Regions from separate parts of the Homo sapiens genome. Here region 1 is linked to region 2. A link means that fine-mapping ties the variant in region 2 to the expression of a gene that starts in the linked region. Tissue or cell type: prefrontal cortex. Region 2 holds a variant in brackets; the other region holds the start of a gene. All regions are shown on one strand. Distances are from middle to middle.

Region 1 (8,108 bases), 78 kb before region 2:
CTTGTGAAGCCATATGTTACTCAATAATAAATCCATCTTGAAAATTCGCCTATCCTTATGATGAGTTTAATTAAGTTTTGCATTTCTAGACTTTTATTTCAATTTTATTTTTTATTTAAAAATAGTTACTTAGAGATGTTGTATTTAAGCTGTCCACGTCAATTAATACAAATGTTGTTCTGTATATTTTACAGCAAGCAAATGGAAAGGCCAGTTTCAAAACAGGTTTTCTGGCTTCTAGTCCAGTGCTCTTTCTTCTTCCCCACATAGACTCCCATCTGAACATAGCTTTGTCTGGAAAGTCTGGGCGCTTGTGAAGCCATATGTTACTCAATAATAAATCCATCTTGAAAATTCGCCTATCCTTATGATGAGTTTAATTAAGTTTTGCATTTCTAGACTTTTATTTCAATTTTATTTTTTATTTAAAAATAGTTACTTAGAGATGTTGTATTTAAGCTGTCCACGTCAATTAATACAAATGTTGTTCTGTATATTTTAGGCAGAAACAATTGAGCCGTTCGCAAGGGGCATGAATTTGAGTTCTACATTTTCTGACCTAGTAGCAGTGATACATTTTTGATTAGTAGTGTTTCTGGCAAGAATGAGACCTATAGCCAATGGCCAAGGGACATGAGGAAGCAAAATAGCAGGTCGTCCATAAATTTGGTCTTATGCCACAAGCTTATTAAAACCAAAAGGGAATTTGTCCACAAAGACTGACTCTCTTGTTTTACAGTTGAGAAGACTATAGTTGCAAAACATAAAGAGGATTGCTGTAAGTCATAATTTAGTGGATGTCAAAACCGCTACTGGAACCCACCTCTTGGTTAATGAGTCCGTAGCTGTTTGTCCTCACCCCTCAGTGCTGCTCTGAAATCGATGAAGTTTTGTGTTTATGGTCAAACCATGGTTTTGATGCCACTGAAGAATAAGCATTTGTTGAGAATGAATAAAGATGTTTCACAAGAAACTTCAATAATTCATCTGTAAGTATTTTAAAAGTGTCTATAAGGCAATCTTCTCTATTGGAATCTTATGACCCGGTGGAGAAGCATAAGGAAAATGAAATAAACTATATAATGAAAACTATAATTCTCAAAATTTAACTAGATGTATTTTTAGTTCCAGTCTGACCTCCAGTCCTAGACCTACTAGGTATTAGGTATTTCCTACTAATAGGTAGTAGTTAGGTAATAGTTAGGTAGACCTACTAGGTACTAGGTATTAGGTATTAGGTATTTCCACCTAAATACCTTGCCTGAATCATAAATTAATTACATTGCTTCCTTTATTTTAGAAAACAAGTTCTCTAGTGCTTAATCTTAGTCTGTGAGTTTTAGCAATCAATAATTTTAACTCTAAGTTGATATGAGACAACACTTTGGTATGACTTTAAAGTAGCAAACAAATTTAAGAATGTATTTTAAGGAATATTTTGCCCATGGTATGTATAGGAAGCGTTATAAGGCTTAAGGAAGTAAGAAGTGAAGTGTTAAGCTCGAATTTTGTAAAAAAAAAAAAAAAAAAAAAATCACATTTGCTAACTTATTCTTCATGAAATTGAGTGATATTGAGAACGCTGACTGTAAAATAATAATTTTCTTGCTATTTTAGCATTCATATCTTTTAACACTGAACTAGGAGCCTAAACAGAGATGATCTTCATCAATAATATTTGCTCTCAAATAAAAATTTGACATCTCATTGTTTTGTCAATGATCATCAATGTAAAATATATTTAGCCAAATGATAGTTTGAGTTACCTTCTATTTGATTTACAAGACAAATAACTAAGACATTTACCAAAAAATAATAATAATCTCTAAAAATCATTCTATCACTTCGATCAAGGCAGACAAAATTAAAAAGTCAAAAAGATTATAGTTTATTGATTTCCTTAGGCTATGTAAAAATAAATGTGGTCCTGTATTTTTCTTACCATGAAACAAAATATTGAACTCTGCCCTTGAGGCATACTACCATACTTCAAATGCTGATCTTATCATTGCTTGCAAGTCAAACAGAGTTGGACTTTAAAAGGAGGAAAGGAAAACCCTGGAGCCACTAAGAAGCATCAAGGGTCAAGCTGTTAGTCTGGTTCTGCTCAGAATTTACCCAGGGTCACAATGCCTGGATAAGGCCACTTTGCTTCCAGATGACATTTTTCAATACAAACACACAACCAGAATTTGAAATTTACTATAAAAAGAGCCATATTCTGAAATTGGTTTTCTAGTTTACTTGGCATCTTATTTGTTTTAATTTGGAACAGGAAATAGCAGAATTTCCCCCCATGTTCCGCATTTTGAATTCTGTATGCGATAATAAATAATCATATAAATTATAAAATAATAATGACAAAGCAAATAGGAAATTGGTAAAGAGTTAGATGGGGGATTTTCTAATGTATTTAAAGTAAGGGCCACATCCCTTCTATGCTCCTGGATGCCCATTTTGTAATAAATTGTGAAATGTATCCATCAGTTTCTAAGTTGTAGTTAAAAGCTCCTCAAACAATGCACAGCACACAGAATAATCTTAATTAATATTTAATTAACTAAATGTTACTTGTTTGCGTGCTTGCACACTTGCTTGGATGAGTGACTCCTTTAAATTGATCTCTTGCTTCTTTTTGAAAGATTTTAGAACTTCCTGTCTATGATTCCTGGAAACGGACACCACTCAGTAGGTTTCATGGAAAGGAATCTGGCATCTCCCAGCCATACTTATGTACAGAGTTTGTGCTGCAGCCTGGAAAATAGCTGTAACTGTGTCAAGCAAGGATCAAAATCCTGGTCTGGAGGAGCTCAAGCTGAAAACACAAAGGCTTAAAAGGATAGGCACTTCTTACTGAAATTACTCCCATAGGCACCTTCTAGCTTCAATTTAGACTGAAATGTAAAAAGACATTAACAATTTCTTATATTTCCCTCTTTTCCAAATTCAAAATCCCTTGGAGCAGGAAAAGGGCAATTATGGCTAATTATGACTATTACTCCAATTCTATGCTCCTGTTAGCAATCAGATTTGCATTACTGGAGAAAAAAAATATTATCCTAAATAAAACATTCTGACTATGATTGCTTAGGAGCCAATCCGAAAATGATTAAGTTTAAATTACAAGGGATCTTTTTTGAGGGGGGGAGGAGAGTTGATAAAAAAACCTTTTAGAAAGGGAATCTACACACTACTAAAACCAAACAAACACAAGGGGGCAGGAAGAGCTCAAGCTCTGACTTCAAAACCTGTTGGCTGAAATGAGAGCTAAACTATTTTAGTGTGCCCTCCGGATATTTATCAATTTTCGTGGCATGCAAAGAAATGTGATGCTGACAAGTAGATTTAGTTTGTGCTTGGTCTAATTACTGCGAAGAGAACAGGAACGTCTCTAATGACAGCTACCCTAACAGAGTCGGATTTGGGAGCGCCTGGGGCCACATTCCCTAGAATTTATTCTTTGGTGCAAGACTAGCAATTCTGATCAGACTGCATTTCTCACGCATTCCAAATGCCCTTTTTCCCTTTTACTCTGTGAACCTCGGTTGCAAAGGAGGGGCTTGTTAAAAACTCACCAATCGGAGGACTGTGCCCATTGTAATTCACGAGGAGAAGGCAGCGTCTGGGCGCGCCGAAGGGGGCTGGGCTGGAGTGCAACCTGCTCTAGCTATGGCTTTTAATTCCAGCTGTCCTTTTGCAAATATGCCCCAGAATTTCTTCTCAAACGCTCTGGGTTTCGCTTCAAACTCAAAAAGCATTGCGTCTAACTTTCCCCTGGGTTTGCAAGTTTCCTTGGGAAATGGCCATGCCCTGCGCGGGATTTCATTGACTAGGGCGGAGGGGTGGGGGTGGCTAAAATGGGTAACCCTCGGTCGCCGGCAGATGAAGTGAACCCAGCACAGCAGTGTGTTCCGGCTCCTCTGCAGGAGTACCAGATCTATTAATAGCAGCCCAGAGAGTAGCGCAAGCAGGGGTGGGCAACTCCTGGCCACTTCTTCCCTCACTTCCAGGACAACCTGTTGCGCCTCTATCTCCTCCCCTCCCCGCAGTTTCCCCGCCTTGGCCTCTAAGAGCTGATTGGCAGAAATTACTACCCAACCCTCAGCTCCGCACCTCCTCCCCCGACCAACGATTGGCCACCTGGGAGGACTGGAGTAAGGGGTGCGAGCGGAGGGATTTCCCTCAAAGCCCAGGGTCCGGGGACCTGGAAAGTAGAAGTGGAGGGATTCAATTCTCCGCGCGATTGAGGCGCTAGCGGCGGAGCTGGACGGCCTGGGAAGGCTTCGGCTCCTCGGCTGCGGCTCCAGCCCGGACGGCGCCGCGCAACTTTGCCATCCTTCTGGCCCAGCCCCGGCTACAGGAGGACCCCGCGGGCAACGCGCGGAGTTCCTGGCACTTCCCGGCGGTGTCTCTTGTTGTCTGCCCGGGGACCGACTTCGCATGCTCTCAGGCTGACCTGTCCAAGCCCGAACACCGGGACCATGCACTCAGCCGGGACTCCCGGGTTATCCTCGCGCCGGACAGGCAACTCCACCAGCTTTCAACCAGGACCGCCACCGCCGCCCCGGCTGCTGCTGCTGCTGCTGCTTCTCCTGTCACTGGTAAGCCGCGTCCCGGCACAGCCCGCTGCCTTCGGCAGGGCGTTGCTGTCCCCTGGTCTCGCGGGGGCTGCAGGGGTCCCTGCTGAGGAGGCCATAGTGCTGGCGAACCGCGGACTCCGGGTGCCTTTCGGCCGTGAAGTCTGGCTGGATCCCCTGCATGACCTGGTGTTGCAGGTGCAGCCCGGGGACCGCTGCGCGGTTTCGGTACTAGACAACGACGCACTGGCCCAGCGACCGGGCCGCCTGAGTCCCAAGCGCTTCCCGTGCGACTTTGGCCCTGGCGAGGTGCGCTACTCTCACCTGGGCGCGCGCAGCCCGTCTCGGGACCGCGTCCGGCTGCAGCTGCGCTATGACGCGCCCGGAGGGGCAGTAGTGCTACCACTGGTACTGGAGGTGGAGGTGGTCTTCACCCAGCTGGAGGTTGTGACTCGGAACTTGCCTCTGGTCGTGGAAGAGCTGCTGGGGACCAGCAATGCCCTGGACGCGCGGAGCCTGGAGTTCGCCTTCCAGCCCGAGACAGAGGAGTGCCGCGTGGGCATCCTGTCCGGCTTGGGCGCGCTGCCTCGCTATGGAGAACTCCTCCACTACCCGCAGGTCCCTGGAGGAGCCAGAGAGGGAGGCGCCCCGGAGACTCTCCTGATGGACTGCAAAGCTTTCCAGGAACTAGGCGTGCGCTATCGCCACACAGCCGCCAGTCGCTCACCAAACAGGGACTGGATACCCATGGTGGTGGAGCTGCGTTCACGAGGGGCTCCTGTGGGCAGCCCTGCTTTGAAACGCGAGCACTTCCAGGTTCTGGTGAGGATCCGAGGAGGGGCCGAGAACACTGCACCCAAGCCCAGTTTCGTGGCCATGATGATGATGGAGGTGGACCAGTTTGTACTGACGGCCCTGACCCCAGACATGCTGGCAGCCGAGGATGCTGAGTCTCCCTCTGACCTGTTGATCTTCAACCTTACTTCTCCATTCCAGCCTGGCCAGGGCTACTTGGTGAGCACCGATGATCGCAGCCTGCCCCTTTCCTCCTTCACTCAGAGGGATCTGCGGCTCCTGAAGATTGCCTACCAGCCCCCTTCTGAAGACTCTGACCAGGAGCGCCTCTTTGAACTGGAATTGGAGGTAGTGGATCTAGAAGGAGCAGCTTCAGACCCTTTTGCCTTCATGGTAGTGGTGAAGCCCATGAACACAATGGCTCCGGTGGTCACCCGGAATACCGGTCTTATTCTCTATGAGGGTCAGTCTCGGCCCCTCACAGGCCCTGCAGGCAGTGGTCCGCAAAACTTGGTCATCAGCGATGAGGATGACCTAGAAGCAGTGCGGCTAGAGGTGGTGGCTGGGCTCCGGCATGGTCACCTTGTCATTCTGGGTGCTTCCAGTGGCAGCTCTGCTCCCAAGAGCTTTACAGTGGCTGAGCTGGCAGCCGGCCAGGTGGTCTACCAGCATGATGACAGAGACGGCTCGCTGAGCGACAACCTGGTGCTTCGCATGGTGGATGGAGGAGGCAGGCACCAGGTACAGTTTCTGTTCCCCATCACCTTAGTGCCTGTGGATGACCAGCCACCTGTTCTCAATGCCAACACGGGGCTGACACTGGCAGAGGGTGAAACAGTGCCCATCCTGCCCCTTTCCCTGAGTGCAACTGACATGGATTCAGATGATTCTCTGCTGCTTTTTGTGCTGGAGTCACCCTTCTTAACTACGGGGCATCTGCTTCTCCGCCAAACTCACCCTCCCCATGAGAAGCAGGAACTTCTCAGAGGCCTTTGGAGGAAGGAGGGGGCATTTTATGAGCGAACAGTGACAGAGTGGCAGCAGCAGGACATAACAGAGGGCAGGCTGTTCTATAGACACTCTGGGCCCCATAGTCCTGGGCCAGTCACAGACCAGTTCACATTTAGAGTCCAGGATAACCATGACCCTCCTAATCAGTCCGGGCTACAGCGGTTTGTGATTCGTATCCATCCTGTGGATCGCCTCCCTCCGGAGCTGGGCAGTGGCTGTCCCCTTCGTATGGTGGTACAGGAATCCCAGCTCACACCACTGAGGAAGAAGTGGCTGCGCTACACTGACCTGGACACAGATGACCGAGAACTACGTTACACAGTGACTCAGCCCCCCACAGACACAGACGAAAATCACCTGCCAGCCCCACTGGGTACCTTGGTCTTGACTGACAACCCCTCAGTCGTGGTGACCCATTTTACCCAAGCCCAGATCAACCATCATAAAATTGCTTACAGACCCCCGGGTCAAGAACTGGGCGTGGCTACTCGAGTGGCCCAGTTCCAGTTCCAGGTGGAAGACCGAGCTGGGAATGTGGCTCCAGGTACCTTTACCCTTTACTTGCATCCCGTGGACAACCAGCCACCTGAGATCCTCAACACCGGCTTCACTATTCAGGAGAAGGGTCACCACATCCTGAGTGAGACAGAGTTGCACGTGAATGATGTAGACACTGATGTTGCCCATATCTCTTTCACTCTCACTCAGGCACCCAAACATGGCCACATGAGAGTGTCTGGACAGATCCTGCATGTAGGGGGTCTCTTCCACTTGGAGGACATAAAACAGGGCCGAGTTTCCTATGCCCATAATGGGGACAAGTCCCTGACTGATAGCTGCTCCTTGGAAGTCAGTGACAGACATCATGTGGTGCCCATCACTCTCAGAGTAAATGTCCGGCCAGTGGATGATGAAGTGCCCATACTGAGCCATCCTACTGGCACTCTGGAGTCCTATCTAGATGTCTTAGAAAATGGGGCTACTGAAATCACTGCCAATGTTATTAAGGGGACCAATGAGGAAACTGATGACTTGATGTTGACTTTCCTCTTGGAAGATCCACCTTTGTATGGGGAAATCTTGGTCAATGGCATTCCAGCAGAGCAGTTTACTCAAAGGGACATCTTGGAGGGCTCTGTTGTATATACCCACACCAGTGGTGAGATAGGCCTATTGCCTAAAGCGGATTCTTTTAACCTGAGTCTGTCAGATATGTCTCAAGAATGGAGAATTGGTGGCAATACTATCCAAGGAGTTACTATATGGGTGACCATCCTGCCTGTTGATAGCCAGGCCCCAGAAATCTTTGTAGGTGAACAGTTGATAGTAATGGAAGGTGATAAAAGTGTTATAACATCAGTGCATATAAGTGCTGAAGATGTCGACTCCCTGAATGATGACATCTTGTGCACTATAGTTATTCAGCCTACTTCAGGTTATGTTGAAAACATTTCTCCAGCACCAGGCTCTGAGAAATCAAGAGCAGGGATTGCCATAAGTGCTTTCAACTTGAAAGATCTCAGGCAGGGCCACATAAACTATGTCCAGAGTGTCCATAAAGGGGTGGAACCTGTGGAGGACCGATTTGTATTTCGTTGTTCTGATGGCATTAACTTTTCAGAGAGACAGTTCTTCCCCATTGTAATCATTCCCACCAATGATGAACAGCCAGAGATGTTTATGAGAGAATTTATGGTGATGGAAGGCATGAGTCTGGTAATTGAT
Region 2 (8,108 bases):
GGACCACTAAACTTTCAGCCAAGACATTAGAGTTTCTAATTGATGCAATAGATGTTTTTCTAACAATAAGTTAAATGAGCTCCCAGAACTCCTGGATCATGTGTTGCAGTGGGAGAACACAGAAAATGACAAAAAAAAAATAGTAAATATATATAGGATATAAGATTTTGGAAAGTACCGTAGAGAAAAACTAACCAGAATAAAGGGGTAGAGAGGGCTGGAGTTTGCACTGGGCTTGCTGTTTTATAAAAACTGAAAAGAGAAGCCCTCAGTGACTCAATATTCTTAAAATGTGCCATATTTAGAAGAGAATGATATTTTCTGGAATATCTCAGGAAAGGGTTAGAATCAAATCTTAAAATTAGCTAAGAATTGTTAAAATTTAGAGGAATAGGGATTCCCAGGAAGAGGAGAAAAACTAAGGATGTCCTGGGCAGAAGATACAGCACATACAAAAACAGCCACCTTTGTTCAGAAAAGAGTGAGAGGTTGGATGTGAGAGGATGGATATTTCTCTTTAAGGGGAAGTGATAGGATGTGAAGTCATAGGTGTTAGAATGGACAAGAAAAAGCTTGGTAGAGCATGACAAGAAGTTTGGAATGAAACCTAGGCTTGCTGGGACCACAGTTTAAAGTGGACAGGAGTGTGGCATAAAGGTGTTTTCATCTGATAATTTGTTTTGAAATCAGAGCTGTTTTATGTACTAATTTAATCAATTGCATGTTATTCTATCTTTTCTATTACTTTCTAGATGATGTTCCAATTAATGGAACGTAAACACAATAATTTTTTAAAATATTTTTTAAAAACAATGAGAACAAGTATTGGCAATAATGAAAGAATGGATACTGTCAATTATTGATGTAAATTAGTACAATTTAGTACAATTAGTAAATTAATACAATTAAATATGAGAGGATACCCACTAAAGTGCACAACTATACAGAGTAATCAATAAGAGAACAGCTGCAGAACCACAAAGACATGAAAGGGCTGGAGCAGCTGCAGCTGCTTCACACAGGAGGGGGATAGAGCAGCAATAAGGAATGGAAAGTGTCAGCCAAGGAAGAATAGGGGTCCTCATTTTAGGCAAGAGGACAAGGGTGATGGAAAGAGTGAGGGTGGCAAATCCCAGGAGCTGCAAGAATCTTGGCTTGACCTCCAAATGGGCAGATTAGAGTGCAAGGGGAACAATCAGGGTAGGTCAGGATGAACCTGGAAATCTGCAAAGAAAAGTCCACTTGATATGGGCAAAAGCTGTAGGCAAGAGGGGCAAAGGAGAAAGGAGCACAGGTGGGTGTAAGGCAGACGAATAGTAGTCCAGCAGTGGGCATGCAGGGTGGGCTTGGGCATGCGTGGCGTGGCAGGGCAGAGTGAGCTTGCATTTGTTGAATGATACTATTGACCTCAGAGCACTGTGTGTGTGTATGGGTTACCTGAGTCGATCTTTGAAGAAATCACAGGCGCTAATTAGCGTCACCCTCACCTGACTCTCCAGAAAAGGAAACAGAGATCCAGAGAAGTAACTTGGTCAGAGTCAGACAGCAGCTAGAAGTGATGTGGGTGGGCCTTGGACTCCAGTTCTGAGGAGCCTCCTAGCCCATGGCCTCTCCTCTCCAGAACAGCACTCAGGGTGCAGCAGACATTGGGCATAGTAAGTTTAGTAAGTTTCATCAGCGCAAAATGTGGAATGAGTTTCCTTGTTAAACGGACAAACTGACACAAAATTCCTGCTCTCCAATCTTTTTTTTTTTGAGACAGAGTTTCACTCTTGTTGCCCAGGCTGGAGTGCAATGGTGCGATCTTGGCTCACCACAACCTCTGCTTCCTGGGTACAAGCGATTCTCCTGCCTCAGCCTCCCGAGTAGCTGGGATTACAGGCATGCGCCACCATGCCTGGCTAGTTTTGCATTTTTAGTAGAGACGGGGTTTCTCTATGTTGGTTAGGCTGGGCTTGAACTCCCGACCTCAGGTGATCCACCTCAGCCTCCCAAAGTGCTGAGACTACAGGCATGAGCCACCACGCCCGGCCCCAATCTATTTATATTTTATAGTTGATAAATTAACTAAAAATAGGAAAGTCCATAATCCCATCATTTAAAACACCAAGCAGCTTCTCCTGTATCATGTCTCATTTTACGAAGCTACATTCACAGTATCAGTACCATTTGTTGTTGTGTTTTTAAGTGTTTTCGGTGTTCCAACAACAATTTCATATTTATTGTTTGGGAGTTGAATAACATTTTATTGATTTGATACACTATAAGATAGTTTTTAAGGTTTGGGGTTATTATAGAAAATATTGCAATGAATAGTTCCTTACAAATATATTTCTGCTTCTCTTAAAGCAAAAATCCCACAGAAGGAGCGACAAGATTGAAGGATATAACCATCTTTTTGCCCCTTGCACACATTGGCACATAGCTGTCCAAAAGGCTTGTGCTAATTTGAAAGCCAAACAACAGTAAACAAGAAAACAATTTCCCTACATAATCTCAGTTGTACAAGGTATTCTCTTTAATCTTTAGTACCTGTTAAGTTGATAGCTCAAAGTTGCTGCAGTTTTTATTTTTTAAAAGTTCGAGCAAAGATGAATGTATTTTCATGTCTTCGCTCACTCAGCGTTTTCCCTTGTGTAGATTTTTTTTTTGTCGTCTATTAAAGTTTTGAGATTTTCCTCTTTCATTTCTTTTTCTATGTGAACTGCAAAGAGAAGAAACTAGAATGAAAACTGTGCCTCTAGCTGTGTTTGTTACTTGGGCTTTTTTTTTTTTTACACCCTCTTTCAGAAAGACTTAAAAGGCATTACTGATGCCTTTGTTTGTAAACCTCACCTTACTCTGAAATAATTGGTGTAGATCAAAGGAAGTAGAGGGATGCGTGCAGAGTGATCAGCTGATAACCATTTTTCCTTTCATTTACCCAACATAGTCGCTTTCACATTAGAGAGATCACACACAAGGTTTATTTTCTGCTGATAGGCAGCCCACTCCATTTTGGTGGGAAGATGGAAGGGGAAAACCTTATCTTCAGAGTGGAATGGAAATCAATGAAAAGAACTGTCTGTTTGCTCTAAGGAATGGAGTGGAATATAGTGGGGAAGGGAGGCGGAGAAGGGATATTTGTTTTTCCTTAAGTGGTTATAATTAAAACCTTCCACCCAATTGCTCTGTGAACCGGAAAAAGTATTTGTGAAGTTGTGTGTGTGTTTTTTAGAACATC[A/G]CAAAGGAGCCTTGCAGCCCTCTGATTAGAAAACTTGCTCTCCAGTGGCACCTTGTGGGAAGTGAGTTATCCTGCAAGTTGGATATTTAGTTTTAGGATTAAACTAAATAGCCTCTGGTAGTTGTGCACTTCCTACCCATTACCTACTTCCCCTCCTAAAACAGCAAGGAATTTGTGAAGAATTATGTCAGCGATTGAATGTATGTGTAACAGTCTCTAGACTGTAAGCTGTATCTCCATGTACATATTCCAGAGTTGTGTATCAAACTAAGTAGCTGTATTGATTGTTAATGTTGTTTCATTAAAGTAATCTGTGGAATTTTGAAGATCACTCATTCAAGAAAGCACTAATTTATGGCTTTAAATTTTTATTTTCAAGGTGGAAACAAGTTAACGTACCAGAATTTTCGTCTGAATTGGGCATGGATCTCCTTTGAAAAGGAATATTACCTGGTCAATGAGGACTCCAAATTTCTAGATGTTGTTCTTAAACGTAGAGGTTACTTGGGAGAAACTTCTTTTATAAGTAAGTTTAATTTTTTATTTCTGTTTTAAAATTTTATTTTTCTAGCAAAGGTTTATAATTCTACAGTGATTAAAGTATCAGTTTAGTTCACTTAGAGCTTAAAGTTAAAATTTAAAAGTTCTCTAACTGCTAAAGAAACAAGCAACAGGTTTGTGTCAAGGTACTTATCTCTTCAAGCCTTCTGTGTACATATGATCTTTTTCTGGTATAAAAATTGGCAGGAACACTAATAAGTTACGAAACAAAAATAAATGTCACTAGATCTTAGAATGAGCTTAGGCAAATCTGTAATTTACCCGTAAGATAAAAGTTTTCTGAAACATGAGTATCGTGACCTTTCTTTGTAACAACAGTAAATTGTTAAATACTAATGATTTTCTTCTGCTTTACTTCGTTTAAATAAAACTAAGAGTCAGAAGCAAACGAATGAAACCTTTTTTCAACTCCAATTCAAGTTCATATTTGTTTTGTTTTGTTTGAGACGGAGGCTCGCTCTGTTGCCCAGGTTGGAGTGCAGTGGCGTGATCTCAGCTCACTGCAAGCTCCGCCTCCCAGGTTCACGCCATTCTCCTGCCTCAGCCTCTCAAGTAGCTGGGACTACAGGTGCCCACCACCATACCCAGCTAATTTTTTGTATTTTTAGTAGAGACGGGGTTTCACCGTGTTAGCCAGGATAGTCTCGATCTCCTGACCTCGTAATCTGCCCACCTCGGCCTCCCAAAGTGCTGGGATTACAGGCGTGAGCCACCGCGCCCGGCCTCAAGTTCATATTTGATTTTCATAGAAGCATAAAATAAAGTTGGCAGTATATTGGTACTTTTAAGCAGCAATATGGTTGGCACAAAATATTTAATATGTTGATAAAAATGGCAGCACCTGAAGCAACTATATTGTTTTTGGTACCATATATTTTATAGACATCTAGACCAATGGAATTTGCATGGGATAAAAAGAGATTTCATTGAGTGAGATTATCAACTAAGGTGGCAATCTGGGAAAATGTTGGCAAAGTAAAAAGTTAGTAAACCTATGCTTGTCTCCAAATGATTATTTTGAAATTTTACTGGGTCCATGAACTTCCAGATCCTCAAAGAGTAGACCTCTATGCACAGAAATACACACCCCTGCCACCCCCAACATCCCTCCCTGACACCCCCACACATCCCGCTGTAATTTTGCTGCAGCCAGAACCCCACCACTCTTTTTGATTTCCCCTGACATGTTTTGATTCTGAATATTAATTACCCCTTACTTTTAAAATTCTTTTTTTTTCCTTTTAACTTTAGAAGACCAGGTTTTCACACGACACTTTCCCTGTCTTTGAGGTTGCTCTGGTTGCAGGGGGGCTGGTCTCCCCGCGGCCTCACCCCCAGCCTCTGCTTCCATCTTCATTTTGCATGAGCCTCCACCTGGCTGTGCTTCTCATGCTTTGTATTTAGCCTAGGATATTCTGAGCACTCTCACTGCGCTCTCTTTTAGGGACATATTCTCTGTGCACATGTGCACATCCTGTCTTATCATCAGGGAGTGATTCGTCTTAACTCTGCTTTGTACTTGAACATATAGCAAATAAATCATGGGGAAAATGATAACTAAAAAACAGAGCACCTTACCGATTATTAAAAATAGGTTTATCTATTTTTTACCTGAGTTCCCACTCCTGGTGAGTTTATTTAATTTTTCACTCACAACAGGCCCCTGGATAACATTGGGAAAGTTAACAGTAGAAAAAGATTGTAAAATTATTTTTTTGCCTTTTTTTTTCTCCACTGCCTCTTTTTTCTTAAGCTGGATGCCAAAATGTCAAACAAGAGCTCTTTTTGTTGTTATTTTTTTCAATGCACTATTATTTTCTACGAATGTGGGGTTAACGGCAGTTCTACAAAGGCTCATAGGCTTTACTTGGTTCACTTCACATGGTTACTTAGTAACCTGGGGTGATAGAAAATTGGGAAGCCTTCTGTGTGTGGCCCACATCCTTCAGTCATTGAAGATGGTAACGGAATTCATGCTAGGACCTGGAATGGAAACCAGATTAAAATGAAGGGTAGCCTCATACAAGTTTTACAATGAATACGTTGCTTATAACTGTGCCCATACAACCTCTGCTTTTATTTATGGACTTTTAGAATGAGATAGATTGCATTATAGCAAAAGACAGAGTATCGCTTGAGTACAGCTAAGAAACCATGAATTACTGAAATTTGTAGATGTATATTCTCAAAGATTATTATTCATTTTATAACCACTAAAACTAATAAACTAGATATGTATTTATATTCCACATTAGTATATGCATTTCAAAGCTCTTATTGCTACCAGTTATTGAATATTTATTAAAGGCAAGGTACTTCATACGTACATTAAGCACTTTATCTATCTCTTTTATACCTTACATCCATCCTTTATTCCCTGACTCAACAAATATTTTATTGAGTACTCATTACATACCAGGGGCTGTGTTAGGTAGTGAACTATGAAGAAACAATGATAGCTAATGTTTATTGAGTTATTTGCTGGGCCTACTTCCCAATACCCTACCTAGGTCAACTCCATGAGAAGAGTACCATGAGGTGAGGAAATAGAGAGGCTGTGACATGTTTAAAGTTAGCCAGCTAGTAAGGGGCAGAGCTGAGATTGGGCAAAAGGCCCATGCTCTTAATCACTGCACCATAGTGCTTCATAAATCCTCCACTGAGATAAGTTAATAACTTGCCTACGATCCCACAACTGTTATATGGCCTGGATGGGATATAAAATCTATTCTCTCCTTCCACAAACACCCTGTTTAACCACTTTGTTATTTTTCTATGTCAGAGGAAAAGATCCAATTGCAGTTTCATTTAATAACAAAAGTGAAAAATTATAGGTGTTTTTAGCAGCAACAATTGGGATATGGTATTGCAACTCATTTAATATCAGATGGTATTGCAACTCATTTAATATTAGATGGCTTGACTATCGTGCAGGAAGGAGGACTAGTTGGAACTAGCAGACATTCATTGTATCACACTTACTCAATTTTTATTTTTAACTCCCTTTTGAAACTCCAAAAAAAACAAATAATGCATTGCTGATGAAAGAAAACAAAACAGAAAAGTGAGCAGTAGCTATCAGAGGCAAACTAACAGATTTTGCTGGTGATGCCACTGGGGATAGATGGGTCAGTGAGCAGCATGTGTTCTGGAACCTCAGAGAGAATGATTCCTTTCATCAGCATCTTGGCAGTGAATTGTAGTGGATCCAAGAGGTGCTGACAACCAACTCTGTGTGCACAAGGAACCAGAGAGCTGTCAGGAAGTCTACAGCATTCAACAAGATATGCAGCCCTGCAATTCCTGGTTCTGTGCCCTTTTTTCTCTTGCCATTAAATGAATCATGTTTTACCTGCTACTGTAAAAGAAAAATATGATGCAATATTTATGTTAGTTATTGTTCTGAGATCTGTAAGACAGAAATATTTTTAATAAAATCTTTTTCATCTTCACTTTAAGATTAAAATAACAGTCATTGATATATTCCTATATATAAATACATATTCAAATGACTCTTATATAAGCACTACGAAGGCAAGAGTTTTTGTCTGTTTTGTTCTCTGATACAGCCCCAGCACATGGAATAGAGCCTGGCATGGAATAAGTACTCAATGAATATTTGTGGTTGAATGGATCTTATTTAGTTCAGTTTCATTTCTAGTTTGAAGAACAAAAGGAATTTTTCAAAAGTATAATTTTTAACTAAATGCAAAATCTTCCAAATAACTTATTTTCAAGATTTAAAAAATCTATCACAAGACTTTATTTTTCCCTCTTTTATTTATTTATTTATGCATTTATGTATTTTTAATTTTTGAGGCAGGCTCTCACTCACCCAGGCTGGAGCACAGTGGCATAATCACAACTCACTACAGTCTTGACCTCCTAGGGCTCAGGTGATCCACCTCAGCCTCCCCAGTAGCAAGGACTACAGGCATGCGCCACCACACCCAGCTAATTTTTGTCTTTTTTGTAGAGATGGGGTTTCACCATGTTTCCCAGGATGGTCTGGAACTCCTGGGCTCAAGTGATCCACCCACCTCGCCCTTCCAAACTGCTGGGATGATAAACCTGAGCCACCATGCCCAGCCTTATTTTTCCAACTCTTTTACATCTGTCTGTCTTACCCACTTCTCTGAAAATGCTCAGGTTTAGAGAAATATATTTGAAAATTATTCTATTAACTTGACTCATTAAGAGGTTCTGGTTCTGTATTTAAGGATATAGAAGTCCAAGTACCATTGCCGTTTTATAATTTTTCTATGACATTGAATGTTTTCACTGCTTTTGGATAATGTACCCTATGGTTTGAGTACCTGGCATG

Which allele goes with the higher level. Alleles are on the strand shown, and positions count from the first base shown. SD is a standard deviation of normalised expression in the study named.
As copies of A replace G in region 2, the expression in prefrontal cortex of the gene that starts at base 4,214 in region 1 goes up (large effect, 0.93 SD a copy in CommonMind).

What was found. PIP is the estimated chance that this variant, and not a neighbour inherited with it, causes the effect.
Region 1: it holds the start of FREM2, and the variant in region 2 is fine-mapped to the expression of FREM2 in prefrontal cortex (CommonMind, PIP 0.95).

Annotation. Positions count from the first base shown.
Region 1 is chr13:38,682,864-38,690,971 of GRCh38, forward strand. It overlaps FREM2 (FRAS1 related extracellular matrix 2), which reads left to right and starts at 4,214. Exons shown (of 24, transcript NM_207361.6): 1 at 4,214-8,108. The coding sequence starts at 4,482. It overlaps LINC00437 (long intergenic non-protein coding RNA 437), which reads right to left and starts at 3,812. Exons shown (of 3, transcript NR_126377.1): 1 at 3,576-3,812; 2 at 824-924.
Region 2 is chr13:38,760,702-38,768,809 of GRCh38, forward strand. It overlaps FREM2 (FRAS1 related extracellular matrix 2), which reads left to right. Exons shown (of 24, transcript NM_207361.6): 3 at 3,603-3,749. Among named protein-coding and RNA genes, the nearest start is that of FREM2-AS1, 63 kb to the right of the region's middle. The variant A/G (reference allele first, on the strand shown) is at 3,224.